Linked DNA regions of Homo sapiens. The protein of the gene in region 1 interacts with the protein of each later gene in a pairwise test. Each region holds a gene or a part of one and is shown in the gene's direction. Other genes may lie near its edges. The genes, in order: VBP1, FGF1, EFHC1 and TCEANC.

Region 1 (8,178 bases):
GAGGGATTTAAAACAGATGTCTATCTGAGGGACCCTGCAGATCTCCCATGCTATGAGCAGGCTGTGTGATTTCTCCCCATCATGAGGCCATTATCATGACATGTTATGGCTCATGTCTCAAACCCTTGAGTTTCTTATTCTGTGCCATATCCATGCCTTTCAATTATCAGGACAGTAGCTGAAATTTATTGAGGGCTTACTAGGTACTGGGCACAGTATCAAGTATGTTATTATGTGTAATTCCATTCAATCTACTTAATAATATGTGCCCAAAGCCCTATTATTATGGTTATTTTACAATGGAGAAAACTGAGACAGTGTTAAAGTAACTAACCTAATATCCCATAGCCAATAAATAATCAAGCTTGACTGCAAAGTGCATGCTCTTAGCCTTAACCATTGTGCTGGAAATGCACCATCTCTCCCAATTATTATACAGGAAAACTTGTGACTGGGAATTTACCATGGCTTATACTGAAGGTCTTCATGTATCCTAAGGAGTCCGGCCCAAAGGAGATTCAGGAACATGAAAGCAGAGTTTGAACCTTTTTACATCCATGCTTTTTATTGGGTTTGGTTGGAAAGGAAGAGCTTGGGTGGACATGGGGGCAGAGGGATTTGGAGGGTGTAATTACTCACCTTGGGGCCCAAGATCAGGTTTTCTAAATTGAGAATTGCATAGTTACAGAAGGAACCCGGAGGATCCAGTGGGATCTAGTGACAACCATGGGATGCAGAATTAGTACTAGTGCCCTGATGACTCACCAGAGGTCGTAGTCAAAATGTATTAGCACTAGAAGTGAGTCTGGAGATCCTCTAGTCCAAAGCTCACATTTCACATGTGAGGACACTGAGCTAGATAGGTGAAGACACTTGTCTAATGAGGCACAGCCTGTTAAATGACAGGGTTAAACTAGAACCCAAGTTCTAGGGCCTATTACACAGTGGCAAGCCTAGAAATGGATTCTGGAAATAAAGCAGGGTAATGTCTGGGAGTCCCCAGGGCCATCATTCTGGCAGATGAGGTGGTGGGGTGGGGGTTGCAGAAGGGTTAGTTCCCTGAACAAAGGACCTCTCCACATCACCTTGGATAAATAACATCAGTCCCAGGAAAAAGGAAATCACATTGCCACATTTTACCTTGTCTAGGAAAATCCTACCTTGTCCTCTCTTGTATAAACAGAGCAAAAACACTGAAGATACAATAACAATACACAGTGAGAACACTACCAGCACACTCAACAACCCAGGGTAGTGAGTATGGAGGCCCATTGGCATGTCTGGAAATAGAATACACATGTATTCTGACTTACTAGGAAATAGCCCCAAGAGGCTGGGGTGGCTTAGCATGCAGGAGCACTATCACAGTTGAGTGCCCTCCAGGGGAGTTCCAAAGCCCCTAGGGGAAACTGCACTTTCTGCTCTCAGAAGTCAGGATTAGAAACTGAATCAGAAGGTCGAGCAGAGGCTGTCTCAGAACATCCTGAAATGCTTGGCATCTCTCTGAAGGCCTTGGGCTCTTTCCCAGTGGGCTTCCTGGGAGGAAATGACCCCAGTGACCAGGCTCAGGAAAAAGGAGACACATTCCCCCAGCCTCAGGATTTGCAGCTCTTCAGAGTAATTTCAGAGGCTTGTGGAGATTGGGACAGAACCTGTTACCTGCACAAAGCTTCCAGGCAAAGATGGAGTGAGAGTTGTTGTCGGTTCCCGGCTGTACAAATTTAAGTCAACTCTTGGTTATCTGGGTTCTGGAAGTTGCTAAGGATATCACCCTCTTCTTCCAGGGGACTCCAATTGTATGTCACATCATTTTCTTCCTTCTCTGCAGAGCACATTAGTGTGACATTTACAGGTACTATTCACTGAAGTCATTAAACTCTGGCTTCCCAAAATATGAGCCAGTGGTGCACCAGAGCTGGCTTGTACCAGCTTGTGAGAACCAATTGTTAAATTTCTAGAAATTCTGCAAGATGGTTGTTAAACACAGCCATCATTTAAAATTAAATTATAAAAATTTACAATTAAATTCTTTTAAAGGCAAAGGTAATAAATATTCAAAATTTATCACCTTCTAATTATTTTTCGACATTTGAATGTTACCTATGCTCTTGAGGTTATTTACATCGATTGTATCTGTGTGCTACTGGGCATGTCCTCCCAACTCGACATGGATTGAAATCAGCCATTGTGGGAGTATCCAGGCTACAGAAATTGGTAGATGCTACAAACTACGGCTTGATCTATGTTTGTCACTCTAGACTTGAAAGCAATGGAGAAAATGTTACTAATGCAGATTCAGCTTAAAAGTGAGTTGTGTCTGTAGCCATTATTGTGAACAGCACCATAAAATGAGGCAATATTTTTCTGGTATTTGAAAACCATTATCCAATTCAGCAAATAAATCACTCACATTGTTGATGAATGATCCAAGTACCAATATAAAAATAATTGTTGAATTACTTTTTTCTTATTACTTAACATAAATGAAAATATCAAGCAACATTCATGTCAGAACTACACTAGTTCATCAATTGCAACTGTAGGTTGTCTAGGGAGATATGTATTTGGCAAAAATCAAAAGCATCCTGTCAGAATTGGTTATACAGAATTAACGATAAAGAGTATTGTATATTTTATTATCACTTATGAAATTGTGTGCTATACACCTTTTACATCAATACAATTTATAATAAATATATACCCCCTTTCTAAAGAGAATTAGTTGAACATTTATCAGCACAACACTACGTGAAATGATTGTTTAAGTTGTTCTGTTTCCTGTTGTATGCGTATTTTCTTTACATTTTGTTTTGTTTTGTTTCAAAAGTGTCCATGGTGAAAAACTACAACCTTTTAAAGTCTGTTTTAAAAAATGCTTTTATTAAAGCAATCTAAAGATAAGCTGTAAAAGGTGTGGGCTACTGAAGGGTTGCTAAAGACCAATCATATTTAGTCAGGTAATAGCTAGATTTGGATCTGGCAAGAGGAAGGTTTTTTTTTTTTTCTTTTCCTTTTTTTTTTTGCTAAGAGATAAGAAAATGACCACCTATAGAGTTGATAAGGTTAGTGTACTCTTGGAAAAGCTGCTGCAGCCATGGCAGGAAGGAAAGAATTGGTATACAACTTTCTAATTAAGAGAACACTAGAAAGGAAATATATTCAGCAGTATAAATAAGGGAATCTTCTGTTTGTACCTGTAAGGGAGTAAAACATGAGCGATAAGCTGATAAGGCTTTTGGCTCCAAAAGAAAAACCTGGCCCGAAGTGTCAAATACTATATCTCTTAGAGGGATTTATTCCAAATTAAAATTAGTGATAATTTGGAGAAATATTTCCTAAAGTTTGAAGTAAGTCCTTGATTGGTTCTAACAATGATTAATATAGATAGGGATCAGTGAAGTTGAACAAAATTTGCATGTGTATCTGATATCTCAATGTTTTTCTGTAGAAACGTTACCTACTTTTCAAAAACAAAATTTTTTTTTGGAAGGCACTGAGGTGGGGGAGAGTGGTGAAGAATAGAATTCCCATATACTTTTCTCTCCAGGAACAGAGACATTATCTTACAAAACTGCTGACCAGAAAAGGTCAGAGTCATGGTTAGCTAACATGTCTTCATCCTCCCAAGCCAAATCGCATAGAAGCCACTGGAGAACTAGTTTGGAATTCCGGCTTCACTACTATGTAGTTGTAGGATTTTGGAGGAGCTGTACAGGTTCACTGAGCTTTAGTTTCCTCATTCACAATATGACGATACCAATTTCTTCCTCATATTATATCTAAAGACATATCTATGTCTATATGCTTGATCGTACATTATGTGCGGAGATAAACCGGTAACAGTGATTGCCTCTGAGAAGAGAGACTTACTTTCCATTGCGTAATTCTTAGGCTCATGGTAGAATTTGTGCAAGTGGATGAAGCACTGCCTCACTGGGAAACACTCCAGTGAAATAAAGCACAGAAAAGAGCCCGAAGAATAATTACTTGGTTCTGTATGACACATGTGCTTTTAAAGGGTTGTAGTGTAGGATGACATTGGGTAAGTCCATGGGCCTAGAAGCCTAGGTGGAGTTCTTAGGATTTTGTATGTAGACTATGAAGTTTTGGAAACGTTTGAGCTGGAGAGAAGACATTCTGATCAAAGGTGGCTTTCAGGAAAGGCTGGTGCGACAGGCAGGGTATTTATTAGAATGAGGCCAGTGACCACTCTGAAACAGACACAAAGTAAGTTCCCTTCAAGGGGCAGGAAGCTCCCTGGGATGGTGAGACCAGAAAGGCACAGAGGCTGAACCCTCGTGATGGCGCTAGGTCCCAGGTTCGCTAGCATCCGAGAGAGGGGATTGGGTCGCTCCAGAGGCCATTGCGAAGGCTGCTGCCAGTTCTAGGGTCGGGGTGGGGTCAGGCTAGGTCCCTATTCCTAGGGCTTTAGCACCGCTCACTCACAAGACCCCTTTTCCCAGGAGGACGTATGGGTTTTTCCTGTCGCTCCAGCTTCTCTTTCGCGGCCCTTCCACGCTTGTCACTTACCTGAGCGCAGCCAATCAGCACCTAGAGGTTGGGCTACTTTCGGCCAAAGGAGAACGGGGACTTGTGGGGGACGCTCCCTGCGCACCAATGAATGTGCATGGAGATGGAGAGGCGGGCCTGCAAGTGCGAACAAGCCAATCACGGAATCCCGGCGGCCGGCGGCCCGGGAGGCAGTCGCGCGCTCGCATCCCCAAGATGGCGGCCGTTAAGGACAGTTGTGGCAAAGGAGAAATGGCCACAGGGAATGGGCGGCGGCTCCACCTGGGGATTCCTGAGGCCGTGTTTGTGGTAAGAGGCACGCTGTTCCCTGGCATCTTGGCTTGAGGCCTTGGACTGCCCCTTTCTTCCCGGCTCCCACCCAGGCCTCGACTGTTGGAAGGAGCTGAGCCAAGTGTTCAGGGAGGGGGCGCTCGGTCTGCTCTCACCCCTCGCACCTGGACAGATTGAGCTCTGCTGGGGGCCCGCCCGGAAGAAACGTAGCTCGAGAAGGCCGTAGAAGAGAACGGGGTGCGGGGCCGGGACGAGGGGCGAGGGGCGAGGGGCGGCGGGTGGCAGGGCAGGGCGGCCTGAGGGACCTCCGGGCTGCCGCCGGTTTTCGTCCCCCTGCTGGTTGGAAAAGGGGAGGTGGTGAGGAGCTCTCGACTCAGCATGGATGCTGGAGACACAGTACAATGAATAGGCAGAACAGCCAGTGCTAAGATGTGAAAACCGGGAATATCACTTTGTCTGTTGAAGGAATGCAGTGGTCTCGGGAATGTTGCCTCGGGAAATGGAAGAAGAGACCGATGGGAAAATAGGATGATAGGTTGGGAGTGTAAAGTCCTTCTGTGTCTTGCTAAGGAATTGAGGTTTTCCAGTAGGCAACGGGCTGTCATCAGAAGGCCTTTCGTTTTAACTACATCATTCTAACAACTTAGTGGAGAATGAATTGTTGAGAGAGGAGGCTGAACCCTCCTGATGGCGCTAGGTCCCAGGTTCGCTAGTGTCCTAGAGGGGATCGGGTTGCTCCACAGGCCGTTCTGGAGGGCGCTGCCTGTGCTGGGTGGCTTTTTAAAAATTTTATTTTATTTATTTAATTTAGAAATAGTAGTTGAAAACTATTTGACTAATGAGAGAAAACATCTGACTGGCCCTCCAGGCCAGGTCATCTGTCTGTCCCCACTTAGCTACTATAAAATCTTCATGGAAGTTTCTCAATCTTTTGGTTTGTACCTTACCTTACCTCTGCCTTTTTTTTACTAACTACGTCTTATATCCTTCTAAAGACTCATTTATTTATACCACACTTGATATTGTATATTCGCATTTGCTGATTGAATTTCGTAATTGGTTATTATTTTGTGTTTTTATGAGCTGTGTCATTTATTTCTCTACATTGATCTATTATCTAACCATAACAAGGAATAAAATTTGTTGAGTGCCAGGCACTTTCTTAATGATTTTACAAAACTCGAGGTGGTAGCTACTACTGTTATGCCCGTTTTTTAGATGATAAAACTGAGGTACGGGGCACTTGAGTAACTTGCCCCAGGCCACACAGGATGTAAGTGAGGTATCCAGGGTTTGAACTTGGACAATCCGTGGAGGTCCAGACTGGCAGCTTACCCCTCATGCTCTGCTACTGGGAGGAGGTGAGGTAGTTCTCATGAATCGCCCTACTTCTCCTGGTCATAGCATAGTGCCTCACACATAGTATAAGCTCAAACTAAGTGTCTAATTGAATTTCCATAGGGCCTTAAATGTTACATTCATGGTGCTCAGCTAGAGATGGCGTCAGAAATCTAACTCGGGAGGAGACACTTTATCTGAGGGCTTTATAATGTCTTGAAATGCTTTTTCCCTACAATGTCGTGGTTATTTTTTTCTAGACCTTAAAATTTCTACCAACATAATGTAATAAGCAACCCAAATTTTATATAACTGTTTATGTTTCCAAACTATTAATAATTGAAGTGACATGGTATTGTAGAAAGATTATTGGCCTCTAAATAGACCAGGGTCTGAATCCTGGCTCTGCTTCCCAGTTGCTGCTTAACCTTAAGCATATTATTTTACCACTTTGAGCTTGAGTTTCTTTAACTGAAATAGGGATGACAATACTTAGAGAGTTGTTATGGGAAACAGAGAACATGCTTGCAGTATTGCAGTGTAGTAGGTGTCGAATAGGTATTAATATTCATGATGATAGGAAGCAATATACCATAGTGGTTAGAAGTCAGACCCAGTCCATTCCCCAACCCCGCTGAGGCAGTAATTTGTTTTCTTTCTCTGCTTGAATTGTTGTTTCACCCTTGTCCATTTCATGACCTCTTCATCTTTCCACATCTAGTTCAGATATCATCTCCCTGTAGTTTTCTCTGACCTCTACCCCAAAACAAAATCCCTGGCACTTTGTGTCCCTGTGGCACATTATGCTATACATAGGTGTCACGTACTCTTATAAGCGTTTCACATATGCTAACTCATTTAATCCCTGGTGACGAAAAGGTACTTGTACAGATGATGAGGAAATTGAGGCAAAGAGAGGTTAAATAACTTCCCTAAGGTCAACTCATCTAATGAGTGGCGAAGCTGGGATTCAAACCAGGCACCTCCTGTCTCTTAACCACAGCCTATGCCGCTATAGTTAATTCTTGCTAAACTCCAGCACCTGATAACATGTATCATGTGCCAGAAACTTACACTTCTTTCTCTTCCCTGCAGTGACCCTTCTAGGAAGATGGCATCTCTCTTTAACATACAGAACTCAGCCATTATCTCTCAGCCTCACCTTTTCAATTTCCTTTACTGTCTAGTTTGATGGCTTCTTAGTTCACTCCCTTGCTGTGTTTCTCTTCCTTTTTCTTCCTTGTTTCAGCTAAGATATTCTCTGGTAGCTAGTAAATATGGATAAGAATAATGATGTGAAGATCTTAGAAGCTATAAGATAATTGAAGTTACTTATAATAAAGAACTAGAGTTCTGTAAAGTACTAGACGACTCTTGTAGCATCTCTTTTAAGTTTCATATATTTTCATCTTGTTTCTGATCCTTATCTAATTAACTAGCCTTTCTTCAAGGATCAGCATGTGGTATAAAAAATATTTTAACATCAGTTTTACTGCTTTTCTTTTGATCAGTTATTACTGTTACAAAAGATTATTCTGTTTGCCTTTTAGGTTTACTTTGTTTCAGTTATTTGATACTGAAGGAAGCATTTGTGGATTGCCTTGGGAACCCAGTAACCATATTTAGTATGATTTCTATGGTAAAACTTGTTGAATTAAAAATAAGTAATAAAATTGATAATCTTGACATGCAACCTGTAAAATCATTTTGTGAATAGGATGCATGAATAGGCAATGTATTTGATTGTTAGTTTCATATTTACTACTAGGGATGCATGGGAAATGCATAAAGTGGTGGGCAAGGTCATTCTTCTTTTCCTATTTTTGAATAAAAAATGAAGAGGAAAGTGAAAGAATAAATTAGCTATATAATATATATGTACCATCTGAAATTGTCTCTAACTTTTTATAACTACAGGTTGAGCATCCTAAATCTGAAAATCTGAAATCCAGAATGCTCTAAAATCCAAAACTTTTTGAACACCAATATAGTGCTCAAAGGAAATGCTCATTGGAGCATTTTGGACTTTGGATTTTTGGA
Region 2 (7,855 bases), on another chromosome or scaffold:
GAGGCAATGTGATTTTGCCCCTATTGGTATCTCTGTGACAGGAGTTAACTGGAGAGACAGCTTAAACCAATGACTGCGGGTTTTGAAGTTATTTCTAGATTTTAATGTTCCCTCCTCTGTATCCTAACAGTTGATAAACTAAGGCTTGGCTGTAATTCCTAGCCCAATCCACACCCCTTTCCTCCCTTTTATGAAGATGTCTTCAAAAAGACAGTCAGTAGGGGGAATTTTAGTCTGGAGCTTCAACTTACATCGAATTGCCAAGTGACAGAGGGCACAGAAACCCTCTCTTGAAGTTGTCATCTCAGCCAAGGGTCCCAATGTGAACACAGCTTCGTTTCCTCTCACTGCCCACTAGGGATCAGGAGATTAAATCATCAGCGTAATAGGTAACCTCTAAAATGCTATGTGCTCAGTACAGATCACCTGGGACGGCTTTAAGGGGTTTGGCAGTAGGGGATTTTTTTAAGGTAGTTCTTCCAAGTGGTAGTAAAATCAATCCATCAGTCAATCGCTTAGTCTCAGACTCATGATTGAATCTCACGCCTCTGCCACTCTGGCAAGTCACTTACCCACTCTGAGCTTTGTCTAAAATGAGGACAGTCATGGATCATAACCGCCTCACACAGAGCGTACATGGGTTCAGTGGTGCAACACACAGAATGCGCCCATCAGAGTGGCTGGCACGTCACAGACCAGTGGTGGCTGTAAGACAAGTCATCAGCTTAGAAGCCCCTCACCCTCACTGTGTCTTAGGTTATGCCACAGTTTTATGGCTTTTCCCTCTTTAAATAAATTTTGACGTTTATTGTAACCTGCTTTCACTTATATAAAAATATTGAGGGAGAACTCCCAGAATCTAATTTCCGATAGGCTCCAGGCACCCCCTTCTCCCACCATAGCCGTGGCCATCACTACAATTCACCTGAAATATGATCTTAGTATATTACGCCTAAGAATGTTTGCATTTTCCCCATTGATAAAGAGAAGTTCTAAGATATCTCAAAGCTCTGCTTCATGCTCTTCATAAAATTTAGGCACTAATCCATCCTGATTCAAACTTGTGTGTGTGGAAAGGATATGTATATTTTTTTTAAGTTTGAAAGGCTATATATCAAAATACTGATATAGTTATCTCTGGGGGTGGAGAATGGGTGATTTTATAATATGTGAATAACTTCCTGTATTTTCCAATTTTTTTTTTACAGTAAGTATATGTCACCTATGTAATTTAGGGTGGGAGGGGAAACATGCCAAATATAAAAAAGAAGACAATTTAAACAATAGACATGAATCAATAGTTAAGCCACATGTCTTCAGCATTGTACCAAGTGCATAATGAGTGCTAACAAATCCTGGTGGAGGGACGGAGCACCGCTGATCTGGCCTGCTGACTCAGCCTGTGACTCAGCTATTTTGTGTGTGTCAACTCCTCCAGTATAATAGAGACATCAGGTGGGGAATGTGGCCATCCTCACCTTCGTCACAGAACACAGGCCTGATGCCCACTATGAGGTGTCAGGCATGAGTCCTCCCTACAAGGGAGTGGGCAACCCACATAGGTCCAAGCTGTCTACCTCCTTCTACCCCCAACAACATGCATCAAACACGAATGTCTGCACCAAGTTCCTCTAGAGGCAGCAGAGTCATCCAATAAAATATTATATTTATATCTCATCTTGTTCCAATATGATCTAAAGTGTCTCACCCTGTTGTCATTTCACTAGATTATGAATGAATAAGAAGCAGGATACTTCCTGTTACACAGTTCCTTACTAAGAAAGGCTGACTTTACTGACTGCTTTATATTATCTCAAGAATCAAATTAAATGCATTACTTAGCTGGTGAGCACCTATTATTTGCAAGGCTCTGTGTCTGGGGGATGGAGAGAAGACCAACAAGATTCCATCTCCTTCCTCACTAGGGTTTATAATCTAAAGAAACAAACATGCTCACACATAGAGAACAATGAACAATATAATTGGAAACCGCCAGACAGGGAATCACCAACCACTGTGGGTGAAGAGAGACTGCAGGGGTCACACGACTTGAAAAAGGCAAAGCAAAGTCAGATGTCTCAGTTCCAGCATAAGTGTTTTAATATACCTGTTTTAGACCCAAATGTAATAAATATATTCTAAGATCTTGACGAATAGAAAGTTCAAAAACTGAGTTCCCCTTCCACCAACAGATTGACTACAAGTAAGCAAAATAGTGGTTGCTGGATTTTTTTCAAGTAACTGCACTCTTTAATACGTTGTGGCTGATTTTCAACTTAATAAATGTACAGCTGCACTGGGTTCTACTGTACGGATATTCTTTTACCCACTTAACCAATCACCTTTCCATGGACATATAGGTTACTCCTAATCGCTTGCCCCTATAACCATTGGTTCAGAGACCATCCTCAAAAATACAGTTGTACACTTACTCAACCATCTCCTAGGGGTAGATTCCTAGAAGTGAAATTGCTGAGTCAAAGGTAATACATCTTGTAAATTTTGATACATATTGCTAAATTGTCTTCAGAAAGTTTCCACTAATTTTTCTCGCCAACTGTGCATGGCAGTGCCTAGTTCCCACATTCTAAGTCTTGCAAATGGTTTTTTATCTTTGCACAAATTTTTTTTTATCTTTGCACATAGGATAGCTAACATATGATAAATAATTTTTAATTTGCATTTTTCTCGTTAGCAGTATTGAATGTTTTCATAGGTTTGTTGTTCATTTTTAAAACATCAAATAAAACATGACATTTTGATGATATCATAAGTCTATATCCATATAGCCTTATCTAGTCTGTATGTACATAAAGAGATGTAAGGCAGGATGTTTATCAGTGATTAACAGTTGCCTATATCTGGGTGGTGGGTTTTGGGATAGTTTTTTCTTTTTACAAAGTAAAGGTATATTTTTAAAAGTACAATTCTTCTTATAAGTAGCATTTTTATTACTCTTTAGAGACAGGTTCTTGCTCTGTCACCCAGACTAGAGTGCAGTGGTACAATCATAGCTCACTACAGCCTCAAACTCCTGGGGTCGAGCAATCCTCCTACCTCAGCCTCCTAAGTAGCTAGGAGGACAGGCACACACCATGGCACCTAGCTAATTAAAAAAAAAAAATTGTAGAGAATGGGTCTTGCTATGTTGCCCAGACTGGCCTCAAATTCCTGGGCTCAAGCAATCCTCCTGCCTCAGCCTCCCAAAGTGTTGTAATTACAGGCACACACCATGGCACCTAGCTAATTAAAAAAAAAAAAATTGTAGAGAATGGGTCTTGCTATGTTGCCCAGACTGGCCTCAAATTCCTGGGCTCAAGCAATCCTCCTGCCTCAGCCTCCCAAAGTGTTGTGATTACAGGCACACACCATGGCACCTAGCTAATTAAAAAAAAAATTGTAGAGAATGGGTCTTGCTATGTTGCCCAGACTGGCCTCAAACTCCTGGGCTCAAGCAATCCTCCTGCCTCAGCCTCCCAAAGTGTTGTGATTACAGGCATGAGCCACTGTGCCTGACCACAAGTAGCATCTATTTATAAGATTCTTTTTATAAGTAGCAAAAAATAAAGCTATTTTCATTTTAAAAAATCTACATTCTAGGATATGTTTCATGCTTAGGATAAATTTTGCACAAGCATATCTTCATAACAATACTCAGGTAAAATCCTGACGTTAGTGAAAATCACCAGGATAAAAGGCATTTTAGCAGCTTTTTGTTTATTCTTTAAGTCTAGCCTTCAAGTTAAAACAACAGCAACAACAACAACCCACTACATCACAGTCTGGTTTTTACCTATTTGGAATGTTTTTCCATGGTCAGGCCTGTGTGCCAGGCCACTACAGAGATGAAAGATCCAGCCCTGCCCTCAAGGTACTTACAGTCGAGCAGAATGTCCCCAGTGGGAGATTCTAGAGTCCTGAGGACTCTTAGAAGTGCTCTTATCAGTAGCATCTTAATTACTTTACAATGGATTTTAAATGGAAAGGAAGTTTACAATAATAGCAAATGCATATTGACAGCTCTTTAGTGCCCGGTGCTGTTCTAAGTCCTTATGACTACCCTGTGAAATAAGTTCCACCATGACCCCAATTTTCCTGAAAAGGAGACTGAGGCATGGAGAGCTTTAGTATTTTGCCCAATGTCACACAGCTAGTAAATGGGGACCCCCATGTGAAACTACTCACTGATTGTCCTACTCTCTTTTGGTTTTATCTTTTTAGCAGACACCAAATGAGGAATGTTTGTTCCTGGAAAGGCTGGAGGAGAACCATTACAACACCTATATATCCAAGAAGCATGCAGAGAAGAATTGGTTTGTTGGCCTCAAGAAGAATGGGAGCTGCAAACGCGGTCCTCGGACTCACTATGGCCAGAAAGCAATCTTGTTTCTCCCCCTGCCAGTCTCTTCTGATTAAAGAGATCTGTTCTGGGTGTTGACCACTCCAGAGAAGTTTCGAGGGGTCCTCACCTGGTTGACCCAAAAATGTTCCCTTGACCATTGGCTGCGCTAACCCCCAGCCCACAGAGCCTGAATTTGTAAGCAACTTGCTTCTAAATGCCCAGTTCACTTCTTTGCAGAGCCTTTTACCCCTGCACAGTTTAGAACAGAGGGACCAAATTGCTTCTAGGAGTCAACTGGCTGGCCAGTCTGGGTCTGGGTTTGGATCTCCAATTGCCTCTTGCAGGCTGAGTCCCTCCATGCAAAAGTGGGGCTAAATGAAGTGTGTTAAGGGGTCGGCTAAGTGGGACATTAGTAACTGCACACTATTTCCCTCTACTGAGTAAACCCTATCTGTGATTCCCCCAAACATCTGGCATGGCTCCCTTTTGTCCTTCCTGTGCCCTGCAAATATTAGCAAAGAAGCTTCATGCCAGGTTAGGAAGGCAGCATTCCATGACCAGAAACAGGGACAAAGAAATCCCCCCTTCAGAACAGAGGCATTTAAAATGGAAAAGAGAGATTGGATTTTGGTGGGTAACTTAGAAGGATGGCATCTCCATGTAGAATAAATGAAGAAAGGGAGGCCCAGCCGCAGGAAGGCAGAATAAATCCTTGGGAGTCATTACCACGCCTTGACCTTCCCAAGGTTACTCAGCAGCAGAGAGCCCTGGGTGACTTCAGGTGGAGAGCACTAGAAGTGGTTTCCTGATAACAAGCAAGGATATCAGAGCTGGGAAATTCATGTGGATCTGGGGACTGAGTGTGGGAGTGCAGAGAAAGAAAGGGAAACTGGCTGAGGGGATACCATAAAAAGAGGATGATTTCAGAAGGAGAAGGAAAAAGAAAGTAATGCCACACATTGTGCTTGGCCCCTGGTAAGCAGAGGCTTTGGGGTCCTAGCCCAGTGCTTCTCCAACACTGAAGTGCTTGCAGATCATCTGGGGACCTGGTTTGAATGGAGATTCTGATTCAGTGGGTTGGGGGCAGAGTTTCTGCAGTTCCATCAGGTCCCCCCCAGGTGCAGGTGCTGACAATACTGCTGCCTTACCCGCCATACATTAAGGAGCAGGGTCCTGGTCCTAAAGAGTTATTCAAATGAAGGTGGTTCGACGCCCCGAACCTCACCTGACCTCAACTAACCCTTAAAAATGCACACCTCATGAGTCTACCTGAGCATTCAGGCAGCACTGACAATAGTTATGCCTGTACTAAGGAGCATGATTTTAAGAGGCTTTGGCCCAATGCCTATAAAATGCCCATTTCGAAGATATACAAAAACATACTTCAAAAATGTTAAACCCTTACCAACAGCTTTTCCCAGGAGACCATTTGTATTACCATTACTTGTATAAATACACTTCCTGCTTAAACTTGACCCAGGTGGCTAGCAAATTAGAAACACCATTCATCTCTAACATATGATACTGATGCCATGTAAAGGCCTTTAATAAGTCATTGAAATTTACTGTGAGACTGTATGTTTTAATTGCATTTAAAAATATATAGCTTGAAAGCAGTTAAACTGATTAGTATTCAGGCACTGAGAATGATAGTAATAGGATACAATGTATAAGCTACTCACTTATCTGATACTTATTTACCTATAAAATGAGATTTTTGTTTTCCACTGTGCTATTACAAATTTTCTTTTGAAAGTAGGAACTCTTAAGCAATGGTAATTGTGAATAAAAATTGATGAGAGTGTTAGCTCCTGTTTCATATGAAATTGAAGTAATTGTTAACTAAAAACAATTCCTTAGTAACTGAACTGTCATATTTAGAATGGAAGGAAAATGACAGTTTGTGAAAGTTCAAAGCAATAGTGCAATTGAAGAATTGACCTAAGTAAGCTGACATTATGGTTAATAATAGTATTTTAGATTTGTGCAGCAAAATAATTTCATAACTTTTTTGTTTTTGTTACTTGGATAAGATCAATCTGTTTTATTTTAGTAAATCTTTGCAGGCAAGTTAGAGAAAATGCAGTGTGGCTTAACGTCTCTTTAGTATGAAGATTTGGCCAGAAAAAGATACCCAGAGAGGAAATCTAAGATAATTATAATGGTCCATACTTTTTATTGTATGAATCAAACTCAAGCATAACATTGGCCAAGGAAAATTAAATACCATTGCTAACTTGTGAAATGGAAGTCTGTGATTTCGGAGATGCAAAGCATTGTAGTAAAAACACCAATGTGACCTCGACCATCTCAGCCCAGATATCATTCATATATCTGTTCAATGACTATTAAGGTGCCTACTGTGTGCTAGGCACTGTACTGGATACTGGGGACCTTGTCTGTCTGGTTTGCTGCTGTATCTTCTCCCAGGGCATTATATTTATGATGAAAGATGCTGTGGATTCAATTCTTTCAGTCAAGAATAAACACAGACTTTGTAGGTTCCTGCTGAATAAAGCAAATCCCAGAAACCCAGATTTTGGAAGAATCAGCAACCCCAGCATAAAATAAACCCCTATCAAAATGTCAGAGGACATGGCAAGGTAAACTTAGCATTTTCAACTTTAGAACCGGGTCAGCTTCAGGGGGACTGCTTTCAAATCAGCCAAAGAGCCTGTCAGATCTTCTTAGAAGGAAGAGGTTGGTAGTTCCCTGCTCTGTTTTGAACATGCTCTAGTTTATTAACCTGGGGACATTCCCATTGCTGTCTTAAGTAAGTCTCATAGCCAGCTCCTGTCACGTGACTCTCATATGGATTCATTTTCGGGCCAGCTCTGAACAAAGCATCATGAACATATGTGCTTTTGGTCGTTTGCAATGTGATGGTGGTGGAGGTAGGTATTGGTTTCCTTGGAAGGCATGATAAGAAAGATTCACAATGGCCAACAGTGTGTATGAACAAAAAACTGATTGGAGCATCAGCTAGTACTGAAGGTCCTTGCTTTGTGTCAGAGGCAAAGGAACCCAAGGCGCCAAGTCCTCAGCCTTGAGTGTACTGCTGACAACTAAACTCACAGGCTGCAAAGCAGACCTCTGATGAAGATGCCTGTTATTTCACATCACTGTCTTTTTGTGTATCATAGTCTGCACCTTACAAATATTAATAAATGTTCCAATAATAGGTGATAATGTCTCTGAGTTTCTGAGCATCCTGCTGCCTCATCTTTCTATCAAAGGACCTCCCCAGCATCCCTGAGGTGTGGCTGCTTAGTTTTCGATACTTACCTTGTTACCAGATGTCAGACTTTAAAGGCTAACAGGGAATGCGAAGGTAGAAACATTTTTCAATGTGTTTGGAAACAGAAGGCAGTATGGGTGATTTTCTACATTTCTGTTAGGGTAATATACATATACAGGAAATTCGCCTCCTGAGGAGCCAGGCACCATAAATAACTCAGGTGAAACTTTTTCTTCTTAACATAAACCATGTAAAATTATGCTACTATTGTTGAG
Region 3 (7,855 bases), on another chromosome or scaffold:
GTGAGATAGGTCTCTTGAAGACAGCATACCATTGGGTCTTCCTTTTTTATCTAGCTTGTTATTCTGCATTGTGGTTTTTTTGTTTGTTTGTTTGTTTTGTTTGTTTGTTTTTGAGACAGAATCTCACTTTGTCACCCAGGTTGGCGTGCAGTGGCGTGCTCTCAGCTCACTGCAAACTCTGCCTCCCAGGCTCAAGTGATTCTCCTGCCTCAGCCTCCCGAGTAGCTGGGATTACAGGTGTGTACCACCATGCCTGGCTAATTTTTGTATTTTTTAGCAGAGACTGGGTTTCACCATGTTGGCCAGGCTGGTCCTAAACTCCTGACCTCAAGTGATCCACCCACCTCTGCCTCCCAAAGTACTGGGATTACAGGCATGAGCCACCATGCCTGGCCTCTGTGCCTTTTAAATGGGGCCTTTAGCCCATTTATAATTAAGATTAGTGTTGATATGTGTAGATTTGATCCTGTCATTGTGTTGTTAGCTGGTTATTATGCTGGTTTGTTTGTGTGGTTGCTTTATAGTGTCACTGGTCTGTGTACTTGTGTGTTTTGTATTGGCTGGTAATGGCCTTTTCTTTCCATATTTAGTGCTCCTTTTAAGATCTCTTGTAAGGCAGGTCTGGTGGTAATGAACTCTGTCAGCATTTGCTTATCAGAAAAGGATCTTATTTCTCCTTTGCTAAGAAGCTTAGTTTGGCTAGATATGAAATTCTTGGTTGAAGATTTTTCTTCTTTAAGAATGTTGAATATAGGCCCCCAATCTCTTCTGGCTTATAGGGTTTCAGCTGAGAAGTCCAGTGTTAGCCTGATGGGGTTCCCTTTGTACGTGACCTGCCCTTTCTCTGTAGCTGCTTTTAACATTCTTTCTTTCATTTTGACCTTGGAAAATCTGATGATTATGTGGCTTGGGGATGATCTCCTTGCATAGAATCTTGCAGGGATTCTTTGTATTTCCTTAATTTGATTGTTGGCCTCTCTAGCGAGGTTGAGGAGGTTTTTGTGGACAATATCCTGAAATATGTTTTCCAAGTTGTTTGCTTTCTCACTGTCCCTTTCAGGAATGTCTGGTGAAATTTGAGCACTTGGTTTGTCTTTCCTATTTTGCTAACACGTTTTCTGGTCTAATATAACCAGTGGGTATGCTTTCTTTTTTTTCTTTTTTGGTGAGGGGAAGGGACTTAATCATATACAGTATTTGTTTTAAGTGAATTAGAAAATTGGGAATATGATTTCAGCCTAACTTGGCCATTGTGCATCTTGCCTCCAGACCTAATAGGAATTACATATTGTTTGAAACCATGGTTAGGTTCCAGATATATGAAAGTAAGCAATCCTAAGACTTACTCTGTTACAGGCACCTAACTAAATTTGATTGATTTAAATTATTTGAAAACAGTTATTTTGCCATTGTGCCTCCCAACTAGCTTAGCAAATACCTAGCAATATAACAATATAAAATACTTCAGGTAACTCTCAATTATTACCTGCATTATGGAGTTGGCTCAGTTGGAGACTTAATACAGCTTACATGCGCTCAAGCAGCAAACTAATGTTTAACTTAAGCAATGGCATAGAAATCATTATTACACTTTTTCTTTCTTTTTTTCTTTATTTGAGGCGGGGTCTTGCTGTGACGCAGGCTGGAGTGCAGTGTCATGATCATGGCTCACTGCAGCCTTGACCTCCTGAGCTCAAGCAGTCTACTCACTTCAGCCTCCTGAGTAGCCTGGACTGCAGGCAAATGCCATCAAACCAGTCTAACTTTTAAATGTTTTTGTAGAAACAGGGTCTCACTATGTTGCTCAGGCTGATTGTGAACTCCTGCGTTTCAGGAGTCCTCCTACCTCAGCCTCCCAAAGTGCTGAGATTGTAGGCCTGAGCCACAGTGCCTGGCCCATACACTTATTTTTATATAATCAGTTTATAACTTACTCTGAAAAGCTCCAAGAAAGATGATCATTGTTAACTTTCAATTATTTAGGTATTTTTAGAAAGCCAAGGAATTGAGTTAAATCCACCAGAGAAGATGGCTCTTGATCCTTACACTGAACTCCGAAAACAGCCTCTTCGTAAGTATGTCACCCCATCAGACTTTGATCAACTCAAGCAATTTCTCACCTTTGACAAACAGGTAAGTGACATAGGAACCACAATAGGCTTACTTATTTCCAAATGTGACCTACATTTATTGGCAAAAGGTTTGGGTAGCTGTATTGGTAACTATTTTGAAACATTACAGCTATAATTGAACTGTTTGGACACAGTACTGTCTTTCTGCTTTCATCAAGGGTTACAGGTACAGGAATGCCTACATTTCATATGGAGATCCAAAGAAGATCGTGGAGTTGCGGAGTTGTTTTGTGAACCTCACCAAACATTTAAATCTCAAAGCAATTCCTGAGCTACATCTGCTTCCCACCTTACGTTTCCAATTGACAATTTCTTTCCCTTAAAATGAGCTAATTTCATAGACTCCTTTGTGAAACCATAAATCGATTATTAGGAAATTTCACAAATATGCATACATGTAGGTTGTAATGTTAAAATGTTTAATTTCACAGAAGCCCCACTACAGATGCTTCCTTGTTAAATGTTATATTAATATTGGAGTCCAGAATGTTCTGAGCATTTTCCAACTCTGTTCCAACCTTCCTAATCCTCTCCCTTGTGAGCTGATGTGTATAAGCAGATTTAAATCCTTCCCTTTCTGTACTAAAGGGAGAAAGAAAAGGAAGAGATCACCCTCAGTGCTTCTTTGCTGCTCCTTTTCTTTAGACATTTAACCCCTTTTAGTTCAGAAAATGTAAACTAGCACTAGCATGGTCTTTTAAGGATTTTGTTCATATCAGTCATATATCTGTTATTATTTTGTATTTAAAGATTGTGTTTATTCCCACGATTTGAAGAAGCCTAGCCAAAAAAAAAAAAAAAAAGATTGTGTTTATATTATTGCTAGAAGATATGTGTTGATGGGACCAAAAAAAGACTGGTTAATAAATAAAAATTTTTTCTACACTAATTATATATAAACCATATTCACATGTACCTTTATTAATATATATATACCACTATGTAAAGAACTTCATTGCTCTTTTAATTTAGCTTCTCTTTCACTGACTAATATTTTGGATCAAAGTGAGCTCTTCTTTTTTGGCACAAACTTATAATCCTATTATTTAATTCTTTCCAGCTGCTGACATATAGTACATAATTTCAGATGTTTTAGTATGTTTGATGAATATTTCTTTTTTTTTCAATTTACCCCATCTGAAATTACTTCATAGTCTTTCCAGCTAGTCTTTCCATCGTTGATACATAATTGCCAAAGTAGCCAAGTTGAACTCCCTACTTTTAGGATTCTTGAGTCACTACTTTGGATTCTTCAAAGGTCCTTCGATTCTATGCAATCTGGGATGATACAGACAGCATGTATGGTGAATGTCGGACCTACATCATTCATTACTATCTTATGGATGATACGGTGGAAATTCGAGAGGTCCACGAACGGAATGATGGGAGAGATCCTTTCCCACTCCTAATGAACCGCCAGCGTGTGCCCAAAGTTTTGGTGGAAAATGCAAGTATGTTTGATTCAGTTTATTCTCTGTTACTTGGGATGTTTTTAGGTTCTTAAAGGAGTTACTTAATCAGTATGCAAAATTCGTTTATACTTGGAAGCCTCTAGCTATTTTTGCTTAGATGCTCAGAAAATGGCTTCCCACAGCTTTCCTCCTTTACTTGCCCCTCGGTCCAGGCGTGCCCCCAAGACAGTCTGGTACCCAGGTCAAGGAAACAAAACCAAAACAACAGTGGGAGATTTATTTAAAGTGCAGCAGAGCAAGGTTTCTGAACTGAAACAATTTAATATTAGATTTTTAATGCATTTTTCAAACAGGCTTGTTTTCATTCAAGGATATGAATGAAAGCTTAGCTTTTCTTTATATGCTTTCCTGACTTTGCTTCTCACTTCAACTACTTCCTAAACAGGAAGTTTCTATGTGGTTTAACTTGAGATTGGAAAAGGCATGTCTGTGACTCATAGAGGTGAGGTCCATTGTGTCAAACCCAGCTCATTCTTTACTGGTTTAAAATTACCTAGCATGGGCTGGGCATGATGGCTCACTCCTGTAATCCCAGCACTTTGGGAGACTGAGGCGGGTGGATTGCTTGAGCCCAAGAGTTTGAGACCAGCCTGGGCAACGTGATGAAACCTCCTCTCTACAAAAAATACAAAAATTAGCCATGCTTGGTGCCGCACACCTGTATTCCCAGCTACTTGGGAGGCTGAGGTGGGAGGATCATCTGAGCCTGGGAGGTCGAGGCTGCGGTGAGCTGTGATTGTGGTGCTGCACTCCAGCCTGGGCAACAGTGAGATCCTATCTCCAGAAAAAGAAAAAAAGTTACCTACCATATTTGAGAGTGGCAGTGCAACAAAATGGCAGCAAATACCTGCTGTTCACTGTTTCCTGGGATGAGTAGGCTTGCTTTAGTTATTGTCTTAGTAGTTTTTACATTTCTCTTAGAATAATGTCATCTTGGTCACATGTAATGACTGATAGCTCTTATGTTTGGGTGGCTGACAGGATTCTGTAAATGTGTTCACTGATTTTTTTTTCTTTTTACTATATTTTTTGGGAATTAGGATATAAGAAATTTCAGGTATTGGGGCTGGGCACGGTGGCTCACACCTGTAATCCCAGCACTTTGGGAGGCCAAGGCAGGTGGATCATGAAGTCAGGAGATCGAGACCATTCTAGCTAACATGGTGAAACCCCATCTCTACTAAAAATACAAAAAATTAGCTGGGCGTGGTGGCGTGCACCTGTAGTCCCAGCTACTCAGGAGGCTGAGGCAGGAGAATTGTTTGAACCCGGGAGGTGGAGGTTGTGGCGAGCCAAGATCGTGCCACTGCACTCCAGCCTGGGTGACAGAGTGAGACTCCATCTCAAAAAAAAAAAGAAAAAGAAATTTCAGGTATTGAGCAAGAAGTTTGTCTACATTAGAGGTTATAAATAAATGTGTAGTCTGAGGCTAAATTCAACGTGTCTGTACATATTGCTTCACTTGCACAGTGCTTTTTTATGAAAAATGCAGTATTATTTGTGGGCAAGGAGTTGGAGGTTTCCATCATTGAGAGAATGGATAAGCAAAAATGTAGTGAAGGTACATTTTGATTAATATACAGTAGTTAGAAGCAGTAAACAAGATGTACACAGAAAGCAAGTGGATGGATCTTAAAAACATAGTGCTGTGTAGGAAAAAATACATGAAATTAGATATATAATGCTATAACACATGCAAAACATAGTACACGTAGGACACATTCAGTCACATAGCTGCATTAGAATGATTGCATGTGAGGAGAGGAGAATGAGATTGGGGAAAAGGATAAAAGGGAGTGAAAATTGTCATCATTTTAGAATTAGGAAAGTTTATGTTATATATTTTTTTAAAAAAATGAAAATACTGCTAATTCAGCTTGTATTCTCAAATAGAAACAACTGGATCTGTGCCCTAGTTCAACATAGTTTGGCTTCTACCTACTATACATATTCTTATAATCAGTTCTCTACAGAACCGTCTTAGAGTTCAATGACAATGGGACTAATATAGTAATTTTGGCCTTTCAGAATGCTTAAACAAGCCTGAAATCCATGCAGTTCGGAGCTAACAAACATTAGATTTACAATAGATAAAGAAAATGGATAGGAATATATTCAGGGTGGCATGAAAAGTCTCACTGAAACTAAATCCCTTTAAATGACAGATTCCAGGTTTGTCTCTGCTTTATCAATGTGACCTATATTGAAAACTTAATATATAATTATCCTCTTCTATAATTTCCCAATTAAAAATTTTTTATCAAAGTTGCATGGAGAGGCAGCCTGGTGGCATATATAGGGTTCTTTTAAAAAGTAGGAAACAGGCTGGTCGCTGTGGCCGAAGCCTATAATCCCGTCACTTTGGGAGGCCAAGGTGGGAGGATCACCTGAAGTCAGGAGTTCGAGACCAGTCTGGCCAACATGGTGAAACCCCCTCTCTACTAAAAAATACAAAAATTACCTGGGCATGGTGGCAGGTGCCTGTAGTCCCAGCTACTTAGGAGGCTGAGGCAGGAGAATTGCTTGAAGCCAGGAGACAGAGGCTGCAGTGAGCGGAGATTGCGCCACTTCACTCCAGCCTGGGCAACAGAGCAAGACTCCATCTCAAAAAAAGAAAAAAGGTATCAGTCATGAGGTACAGAAAAGGCTATGTTCCCATCAGCTACATAATTCCTTTAACTAGAAGGGTAGTGTTAAAAGAATGATGTCTAATTGACTCTCAAAGGCATTTATCCAATGGGTGATTTTTATTAAATTCAATTAAACAAGAGGTAAATAATCTGCTATGGGAACCATTTCACATGCTAAATGCTATGGAGGACAAAATGTAACTCCCATTCCTAGAATCCTATCTTTCAGTCATTTCTAGTGTCATTAAGAAGACAAGGCATATAAAATACACAAAGCTGTTAAGTAATAACATGAGTATACCAGATTATCTGATTATGTAATTAGTTAAGTCATGCAGACCGAGGTCAGAAGGACAAAGGTGTGGGCCTGAAAAACTAAAGAAGTCTTTGTGGAAGAGCTGGGATTAGACTCAGATTTAGAATGGCAGAGAACAAAGAGCTCACTAGAAAGAAGAACAAGAGCAAAAGTTGGGAATTAGGAACAAGTATGGCATGTTTGGGGGCGCCCAAGAGATGGTGGCTAGGCAGAGAGTTTGTATTAGACAGTAATAGGAAATTATGGGAGTAACTTTCAGAAGTCCTCTCAACCAGGGCCTCCTTTTAAGTAGCTAAGATAAATCAAAATTATATATTTATAATGGATGGAGTTAAAATATCAGAAATTCAGAAAGTTATTTCTTCGTCAAGGGCAATTGCATATTACCAATAGGTGGCAGGTAATATCAAAACAGGACATCTTTTGACTTAACAAAAGCTTTCTACTCAGCTCTTGAACCCAAGGAACCAGGTTCTGAAAGTCTAAATATGTTAGTTATCCTTCAGACTGGCTTTCATAGTTTGATCTTGCCCTTGCCTGTTAGATGAATCTTGAACACCCCTTAGACCTTTAGTGTTCCAGAAAGTTGAATGTATTTCCTCACTTTCTGTGCATCTTTGTTGGCTCACTCAGTCATTCGAATAATATTAATCGAACATCCATATAGATGAAGGAAACACCATGCTAGGCAATGGAGATCTGAAACTACTATAAGCCCCATATCTCAAAGACTTTACAATCTGATGAGATCAACATACAGATCAATGAAATAGAACAAATTGTCCAGAAATAGATGCACACATATGAGGTCATTTGATTTTTGACAAAGGTAAAAAAGCAATTTGGTGGAGAAATGATTGTCTTTTTAACAAAAGGTGCTGGAACAATTCAATAGCCTATGCAAAAGTAAATAAATAAATAAACTTCAACCCTTACCTCACCATACATAAAAGTTAACCCCAAATGGATCATAGACCTGGGCGACAGAGTGAGACCCTGTCTCAGAGCAGGGGGAAAAAAAAAGCAAATGTAATGAAAACAAAAATTGACAATTGGGACCTAATTAAACTAAAGAGCTTGTGCATTGCAAAAGAAGCTATCAACAGAGGAAACAGCCTACAGAATGGGAGAAAATATTTGAAACAATGCATTTGACAAATGTCTAATATCCAGAATCTATAAGGAACTTAAATCAACAAGAAAAATAACAAATAACCCCATTGAAAAGTAGGCAAAGGACATGAACAGACACTTCTCAAAAGAAAACATACAAATGGACAACAAACATTTTAAAAATGCCCAACA
Region 4 (7,855 bases), about 140 Mb from region 1:
CAGGAGTATTGTGAGGATTGAGATGACTGGAGTGTGTGTGGCCTGGAGAGTTGCTCAATAAATATATGTTGCCTTCCACTGTGAAGAGGTAAGTGAGAGGGTGAATATCAGGAATTGTGTACATTATGACACTTAAAATATTACAGTTGTCATTTGTAATTTGTAGAGAAGGTTGTCAGCTGCATTGTACACAGTAGGTGTTTTAAATCTTTTCTGACTGAATGGGACTCATCTAGAAAAGCCAGTCATAGAGTTGTCTGCATTCGGTCCAGGAGCAGAACCAGAGCTGTCTTTGGGGCTGATGGCAGCCTAACTGGCAGGTCCTGCTGGGGTGTGGAAGAGGGTTGTATGCCTGTGTGTGGTTTAAATCAGAGTCACCCTGGAGAGCTGAGCCAATATGCAGGCCCTACCCTCAGAGATCCTAATTCATCCTATCTGGAGTGAGGCCCTGCCATTGTTTGTTTTTGTTTTTTGTTGTTTAATTTCCCCAGAGGATTCTAATGTGCAGCCAGGCTTGAGAACCACTAATGGTGAGAGATCAGCCAGGCTCGGGATGCTGCTTGAGCAAAGGCACAGAGCCGTGCCCATCAGTGGTTGCGAGTAGTCAAGAGGGAGGCCTGCTAGGGCTCTTTTTGCCACTGGCCAAGGAGCTTTGGCTCCATCATGAAAGCAAGGGGAAACCTCTCAAGGGCTTTCAGCAGGAAAATGAGGGAGTATCTTTCTGAGATCTGTACTAGAGGATGATCCCTCTAACAAAGTGCCAGACTCACAGTTGGGCCTTGTGAGTGCCAGAAGTACAGTGAAGGCAGTAAAGAAGCAAATTGTAGCTGTCCAGATGATGGCGAGCCCAGATAGGGTTTGGTGCCATCCTGCGTGTGTTTCCCCTAGCAGCCAGTGTCTGTCCATGTTGAAATTCCACATGTGTTGTAACTGGCCAGTTTCTTGTCAGTATTACTCCCACTAGGCTATCAGCTCCTTCAAGGCAGAGACTGTCTCTTTAGGCTCAGCATCTAGCACATACTCAATCCCTAATATATATTTATTGAATGAACTATGTAGAACTAAGCTGGACATATGCCTTACCTTGTCTTTTTATGGCAATTGTCAGAATTTTGTATTTCAATGGCTTCCACATTATACCCTCCTAGGGCAATAAATCCTTTATATCCACATGATGGTCCCACAGAGGACTAGAAAGTTTGACTGGATTTAAATCCTGTTAAAAATGTGGAAGGGAATGGAAAACAATACAGTGGGTCCTCAAAAAATTAAAAATAGAATTACCATATGATCCAGCAATTCCATTTTTGAGTATATACTCTGAAGAATTGAAAGCAGGGTCTCAAAGAGAGATTGGTATACCAGTGCTCACAGCAGTGTTATTCACAATGGCCAAAAGCCAGAAGCAACTCAAGTATCCGTTGACATTTGAATGGATAAACAAAATGTGTTATGTATAGACAATGGAATATTATTCATTCTTAAAAAGGAAGAAAGTTCTGACACATGCTACAACATGGATGAACCTTGAGGACATTATGCTAAGTGAAATAAGCCAGTCACAAAAAGAGAAATACTGTATGATTCCACTCACATGAAGTACCTAGAGTAGTCTCATCCATAGAGACAGAAAGTCGAGTGGTGATTGCCAGGGGCTGGAGGGAGGGAAGAATGAGGAGTTGTTTAATGGGTGCAGAGTTTTCAGTTTGGGAGGATGAAAAGAGTGCTGGACATAAGCATCTTGATGGCAGGGACTGTGTCTTTTCAAAAATCCATGGGCTCTGTTTTATAGCACTTGATATTAAATAATCACCACCGAACATACACAGGCTAAGAACACTGAAGTGTTTAGAGAGAGAATTCACACAATCTTCCCAGACACCATATGACAAGTGACATAAAACATATTTACCTTTTAGTAATTCTACTTCTGTGAATTCACTTTAAGGAAACGAGAGATGTGGAGACCGCATATGTACGCATTTTCTTCAAACTTAGGAGAAACTGGAAGGCCCCAAATAGGAGAATGATTAAAAACTATCGCAAACTCCTAGGATGATCCAATAACATAACCATTTAAAAATCGTGTTTTTAGAGAATATTTAATGATGTGGAAAAATAGTCCTAAAGCTAAGTGAAAAAAAATCAAGATGCAAAACTATATGAAAGATTAAACAGTTATATAATCCAGCAGATTCAAGATAAATGAAAACATATGTCCATGCAAAAACTTGTACACAGGCCGGGTGTGGTGGCACATGCCTGTAATCCCAGCACTTTGGGAGGCCAAGGCAGGTGGATCACCTGAGGTCAGGAGTTCGAGACCAGGCTGGCCAACATGATGAAACCCTGTCTCTACTAAAAATACAAAAAGTAGCCGGGCGTGGTGGCACATGCCTGTAATCCTAGCTACTCAGGAGTCTGAGGCACGAGAATCACTTGAACCCAGGAGGTGTAGATTGCAGTGAGCCAAGATTGCACCACTGCACTCCAGCATGGGTGACAGAGCGAGACTCCATCTCAAAAAAAAAAAAAAAAAAAACACACACACACTTGTACACAAATGTTCATAGCAGTATTATTCATAATAGCCAAAAATGGGAAATAATCAAAATGTCCATCAACTGATGAATGGATAAATAAAATGTGGTTTATCCACACAACATAATATTATTCTGCCATGAAAAGGAATGAAGTACTGAAAATGCTACAACATGGATGAACCTTGAAAACGTTATGCTGAATAGAAGAAGCCAGATACAAAAGACCACATACTGTATGATTTTATTCACATGAAATGTCCAGACAGCAAATCTATACAGACAGAAAAAAGATTAGTTGTTGACTTGGTGGGGTGGGACAGAAGGGCAGTGGAGTGAAGAAAGAGGAGTGGCTGCTAAAGTGCAGGGATTTTCTTGGGGGGTGGTGGCACAGATAAATCTTCTAAAGTTGATTTATTTGTGGTGATGGGTTACACAACTGTGAATATACTAAAAGCCACTGAATTATACACTTTAGGGGAATTGTATGGTATGTGAATTACATCTGAATAAAGGTGTTATTTAAAAATAGAATCTGGTCCAAATTTTACTTAAGAATTACATATGGAAAGACTGAAGAGATACGCAAAATTTTAAAGAGGGGCATTTTCTGAATGGTGAGATTTTAGGTAATTTTCATTTGTTCTTTTACTCTTTTCTGTATTTTCTGTGATGAGCATGCATTGTTTTCATAATCAGAAAAGTTATTGGTCTAATATAATTTCATGATAAACTGTATACATTTAAGATACTGAAAAATGGTATGGTGAGAAATGAATCAATCACCTTCTACCCACCTTCCCTCTGAAATGTGAATATCGTCTCTTAAGAGTGGCTATATCACCTGTGGCTTTGCATTCAGATAAGTATTCATAATTGCCTCAGAAATCGATTACTGCATCTCAAACAGGTGCATCTCCCCTCAAACTTTATCCCCAAATATGAAGAGTTAAGTACCCTTACATAACCAAGAGTCTGAGTCCTACATTTTTAACCACCAGAGGGAGCTGGAATGTAGAAAACCTGGGGCAGTCAGTTTTGTTTTGTTTTAAAGTTAGTTTCACAAAGGGCCATCAATTCAGGATCTTATGTAATTTTCCTAATTATTGTGAACCAGCACTTAAAAGATAATTCTTTTTTGCCTTTTTAAAATTCCACTTTTAAAGACTGCATACAGTAAAAGAGGTCTTCCTAAGAATCAAACTCTTAATAAACAACAGGCAAGACAGCACAGAAAAATAAAAAATATTCACACCCTCTATTAGCGAACATTTCTCTCAGAATTGTCTGCTTCAGATCTTGAAGTCACGCAGTTGTGTCACAGTGATAAAGTTTCAAGTTATTCAATATACTTGAGCCCTCCCCGACTCGTTGAAAAGTTTCCTAACAAAGAAGAAACATTCAATGTGCCTGCATTCTATATGCATTACTATTGAAATCAGGATGGAGGTTTGCTAGGCATTGAGAAAGATGGTGAATAAGAGATGGGCCTACAGCGCCCAAAAGGAAGTTAAGCAATATTTGACTCAGGTCAGAATTTCTCAACTGAAGGTCTGAGTTTCAAGGTAATTCTTAAAGGGAATTGTAATTATAGCTTCGGGGTTTCAGTGGGGTGAAAGCAGCAATTTGTCTTACCAGCAAAATGAGTAAATCTATAGAAGTTAATGTATTTATGTATAAACAACCAAAAAGCACTTTGCTCTTCATTTTATATGTTCTTTTATTGACCTTTTCTTCATATTTCTTTAAAAAATTTTAATTGTGATAAAATATACAAAACATAAAATTTACTGTGTTAAGCCCTTTTTTTTTTTTTTTTTTGACAGAGTCTCGCTCTGTCGCCAGGTTGGAGTGCAGTGGCATGATCTCGGCTCACCGCAAACTCTGCCTCCCGGGTTCAAGCAATTCTCCTGCCTCGGCCTTCCGAGTAGCTGGGACTACAGGTATGCGCCACTACATCCAGCTAACTTTTTGTATTTTTGGTGGAGACAAGGTTTCACCATGTTGGCCAGGATAGACTCGATCTCTTGACCTCATGATCCACCCACCTTGGCCTCCCAAAGTGCTGGGATTGCAGGTGTGAGCCACCACGCCCAGCCTGTCTTAAGCCTTTTTAAGTATACAGTTCAGTAGTGTTATGTACATTCTCGTTCCAGAGGGGAGGTGGGTAGAAGGTGATTGATTCATTGCTCATACCATTTTTCAGTAGGTATATCTTAAGTGCATATAGTTTATCATGAAATTGCGTTAGACCAATAACTTTTCTGATTATGAAAGCAATACATGCTCATCACAGAAAATACAGAAGAGGAAAATAACAAATGAAAATTACCTAAAATCTTACCATTCAGAAAATGCCCCTCTTTAAAATTTTGTGTATCTCTTTTCAGTCTTTTCACATGTAATTCTTAAATAAAATTTGGATCAAATTCTATTTTTAAATAACACCTTTATTCAGATGTAATTCACGCACCATACAGTTCACCTAAAGTGTACAATTCAGTGTTTTTTAGTATACTCAGTTGTATAACCCATCACCACAAATAAATCTTGAGAAGATTTATGTGTGCCACCACCTCCCAAGAAAATCCCTGAACTTTATCAGCTGCTCCTCCTCCTTCACCCCACTGCCCTTCTGCCCTACCCTACCTAGTCAACAACTGATCTATTTTCTGTCTCTATAGATTTGCCTGTTTTGGACATTTCATGTAAATAAAATCATACAATATGTGGACTTTTCTGTCTGGCTGCTTCTGCTCAGCATAATGTTTTCAAGGTTCATCCATGTTGTAACTGTATCAATACTTCATTCCTTTTCATGGCAGAATAATATTCTGTTGTGTGGATAAATCACATTTTATTTATCCATTCATCAGTTGATGGACATTTCGATTATTTCCCATTTTTGGCTATTGTGAATAATACTGCTATGAACATTTGTATACAAGTTTTTGTGTGGACATATGTTTTCATTTCTCTTGGATCTGCTGGGTCATATGATAACTGGTTTATTCATTTATTTATTATTATTTTTTTTTAGACAGAGTCTTGCTGTGTTGCCCAGGCTGGAGTGCAGTGGCACGATCTTGGCTCACTGCAAACTCCGCCTTCCAGGTTCATGCCATTCTCCTGCTTCAGCCTCCCAAGTAGCTAGGACTACAGGTGCCCGCCACCACACCCGGCTAATTTTTTGTATTTTTAGTAGAGATGGGGTTTCACCATGTTAGCCAGGATGGTCTCGATCTCCTGACCTCGTGATCTGCCTGCCTCGGCCTCCCAAAGTGCTGGGATTACAGGGTGAGTCACCATGCCCGGCCCATATGTTAACTGTTTAGTCTTTTATATAGTTTTACATCTTGATTGTTTTTCACCTAACTTTATGACCATTTTTCCATGTCGTTAAATATTATCTAAATACATGATTTTTAAATGGTTATATTACTGTATCCTAGGAGTGTGCCATATTTTTAACCATTCTCCATTTAACCATTTGAGGGCCTTCTAATTTCTCCTTAGAAGAAAATTCTTACATATGCAGTCTCCACATCTCTCATTTCCTTAAAGTAAATTTATGGAAGTAGAATTACTAAAAGGTCATTATGTTTTATGTCACTTGTCATATGGTGTCTGGGAAGACTGCGTGAATTCTCTCTCTAAACACTTCAGTGTTCTTAGCCTGTGTATGTTCGGTGGTGATTATTTAATATCAAGTGCTATAAAACAGAGCCCATGGATTTTTGAAAAGACACAGTCCCTGCCATCAAGATGCTTATGTTCACATTTAGACCAGACAGATAAATATAGATCCAAGGGTATTATATAGACAAGATTATGTACATTATGTGGAGGGAAAAAATAGACTGCATAGATAAAAGTAAACATTTGCCTGCCTAGGATGAAATTCACACAGACATAATCATTGAGCAACTCTTTACACTTAAAAATTTTTTAAAAATTAACAAAACCAAAATGTAAGAACCAGTTAGTCTAAAGTCATAAATCATCTGGATCATTGAGTCTGAACCTTTCCCTTGTTCAGAAGACTCCTAAGGCAGCACAGTGTAGCCTGTTGGCTTTTGGGACCCGCAGACGTATCTCTAGCTGCTTTTCAACCTGTGCTGTCTCACATTTTCCTTAGATTGCTTGAGACATTAGCAAACCCTTTCTGTCTTGTTTCTCTTTTATTTTCAGAAGAGTACCACTTTAAAGATTATGAAATGAGCAAGTAGTTCAGTTATATAGCTGACTCTGGGGAAAAATTGTCTAGCACTGTTCAGCATTGCCATATTGATGCTGACACCGGCATGATTTCACCTCCAACATGACCACCGGATTCCGCCCAAATGGATTGACTAATCTAGAAAGATCATTGATTTGTAAAATTGGAGGTGGAAAAGCTATAGCAGATCCTCCGGCAAGCCTCTTAAGCAGATGTTATGTAGAGGCTCTGCAATGCTGTTTGTTTGTTTTTCACTCGTAGGAATTAAACTCTTGAGAGTAAACCATACCGTCACCTTAAAGATTCCATTTTCTAGCGTGTCGCATACATTTGTATTACATGACTCTTTCGGAAAACATTGCCTAGGTAACTGACAGAAAGTGCTATTTTAGTATCCAGAAGCTGCGACTAGCAACGGCAAACTTAAGAAAACTGAAACCTCTTTTTTCTTTGCAGCTGTAAAGATGTCTGACAAGAACCAGATAGCTGCCAGAGCTTCTCTTATTGAGCAACTGATGTCCAAAAGGAATTTTGAGGATCTTGGCAACCACCTTACTGAGCTAGAAACAATTTATGTGACTAAGGAGCATCTCCAGGAGACAGATGTGGTCAGAGCTGTGTACAGAGTCCTCAAAAACTGCCCCTCTGTGGCTTTGAAAAAGAAAGCCAAGTGTTTGCTATCAAAGTGGAAAGCTGTTTATAAGCAGACTCACTCCAAAGCGAGGAACAGCCCTAAATTATTTCCTGTGAGGGGTAATAAAGAAGAAAATTCAGGACCTTCTCATGACCCAAGTCAGAATGAGACACTGGGCATCTGCAGCTCGAATTCTCTGTCTTCCCAAGACGTTGCAAAACTCAGTGAAATGATTGTGCCTGAAAATAGAGCCATTCAATTGAAACCTAAGGAAGAGCATTTTGGGGATGGTGACCCTGAATCCACTGGCAAGAGATCGAGTGAGTTGCTGGATCCCACAACACCCATGAGAACTAAATGCATAGAGCTTCTTTACGCAGCTTTAACTAGTTCTTCCACAGATCAACCCAAAGCTGATTTGTGGCAAAACTTTGCAAGAGAAATTGAAGAGCATGTTTTTAC

What was found.
Region 2: the proteins of VBP1 (region 1) and FGF1 interact in binary tests that used the Homo sapiens proteins (3 or more experiments, as listed by UniProt).
Region 3: the proteins of VBP1 (region 1) and EFHC1 interact in binary tests that used the Homo sapiens proteins (3 or more experiments, as listed by UniProt).
Region 4: the proteins of VBP1 (region 1) and TCEANC interact in binary tests that used the Homo sapiens proteins (3 or more experiments, as listed by UniProt).

The regions. Positions count from the first base shown.
Region 1 is NC_000023.11:155,211,758-155,219,935, forward strand, and holds the start of VBP1 (prefoldin subunit 3), read left to right. Parts: upstream 1-4,725; coding exon 4,726-4,818; intron 4,819-8,178. UniProt on the Homo sapiens protein: Binds specifically to cytosolic chaperonin (c-CPN) and transfers target proteins to it. Binds to nascent polypeptide chain and promotes folding in an environment in which there are many competing pathways for nonnative proteins.
Region 2 is NC_000005.10:142,591,851-142,599,705, reverse strand, and holds the end of FGF1 (fibroblast growth factor 1 isoform 1 precursor), read left to right. Parts: intron 1-4,221; coding exon 4,222-4,416; 3' UTR 4,417-7,528; downstream 7,529-7,855. UniProt on the Homo sapiens protein: Plays an important role in the regulation of cell survival, cell division, angiogenesis, cell differentiation and cell migration. Functions as a potent mitogen in vitro. Acts as a ligand for FGFR1 and integrins.
Region 3 is NC_000006.12:52,450,705-52,458,559, forward strand, and holds part of EFHC1 (EF-hand domain-containing protein 1), read left to right. Parts: intron 1-1,983; coding exon 1,984-2,133; exon of another isoform or gene 2,134-3,390; coding exon 3,391-3,583; intron 3,584-7,855. UniProt on the Homo sapiens protein: Microtubule inner protein (MIP) part of the dynein-decorated doublet microtubules (DMTs) in cilia axoneme, which is required for motile cilia beating.
Region 4 is NC_000023.11:13,655,286-13,663,140, forward strand, and holds part of TCEANC (transcription elongation factor A N-terminal and central domain-containing protein), read left to right. Parts: intron 1-3; 5' UTR 4-88; intron 89-4,366; 5' UTR 4,367-4,401; coding exon of another isoform or gene 4,402-4,483; intron 4,484-5,745; 5' UTR 5,746-5,837; intron 5,838-7,215; coding exon of another isoform or gene 7,216-7,223; coding exon 7,224-7,855.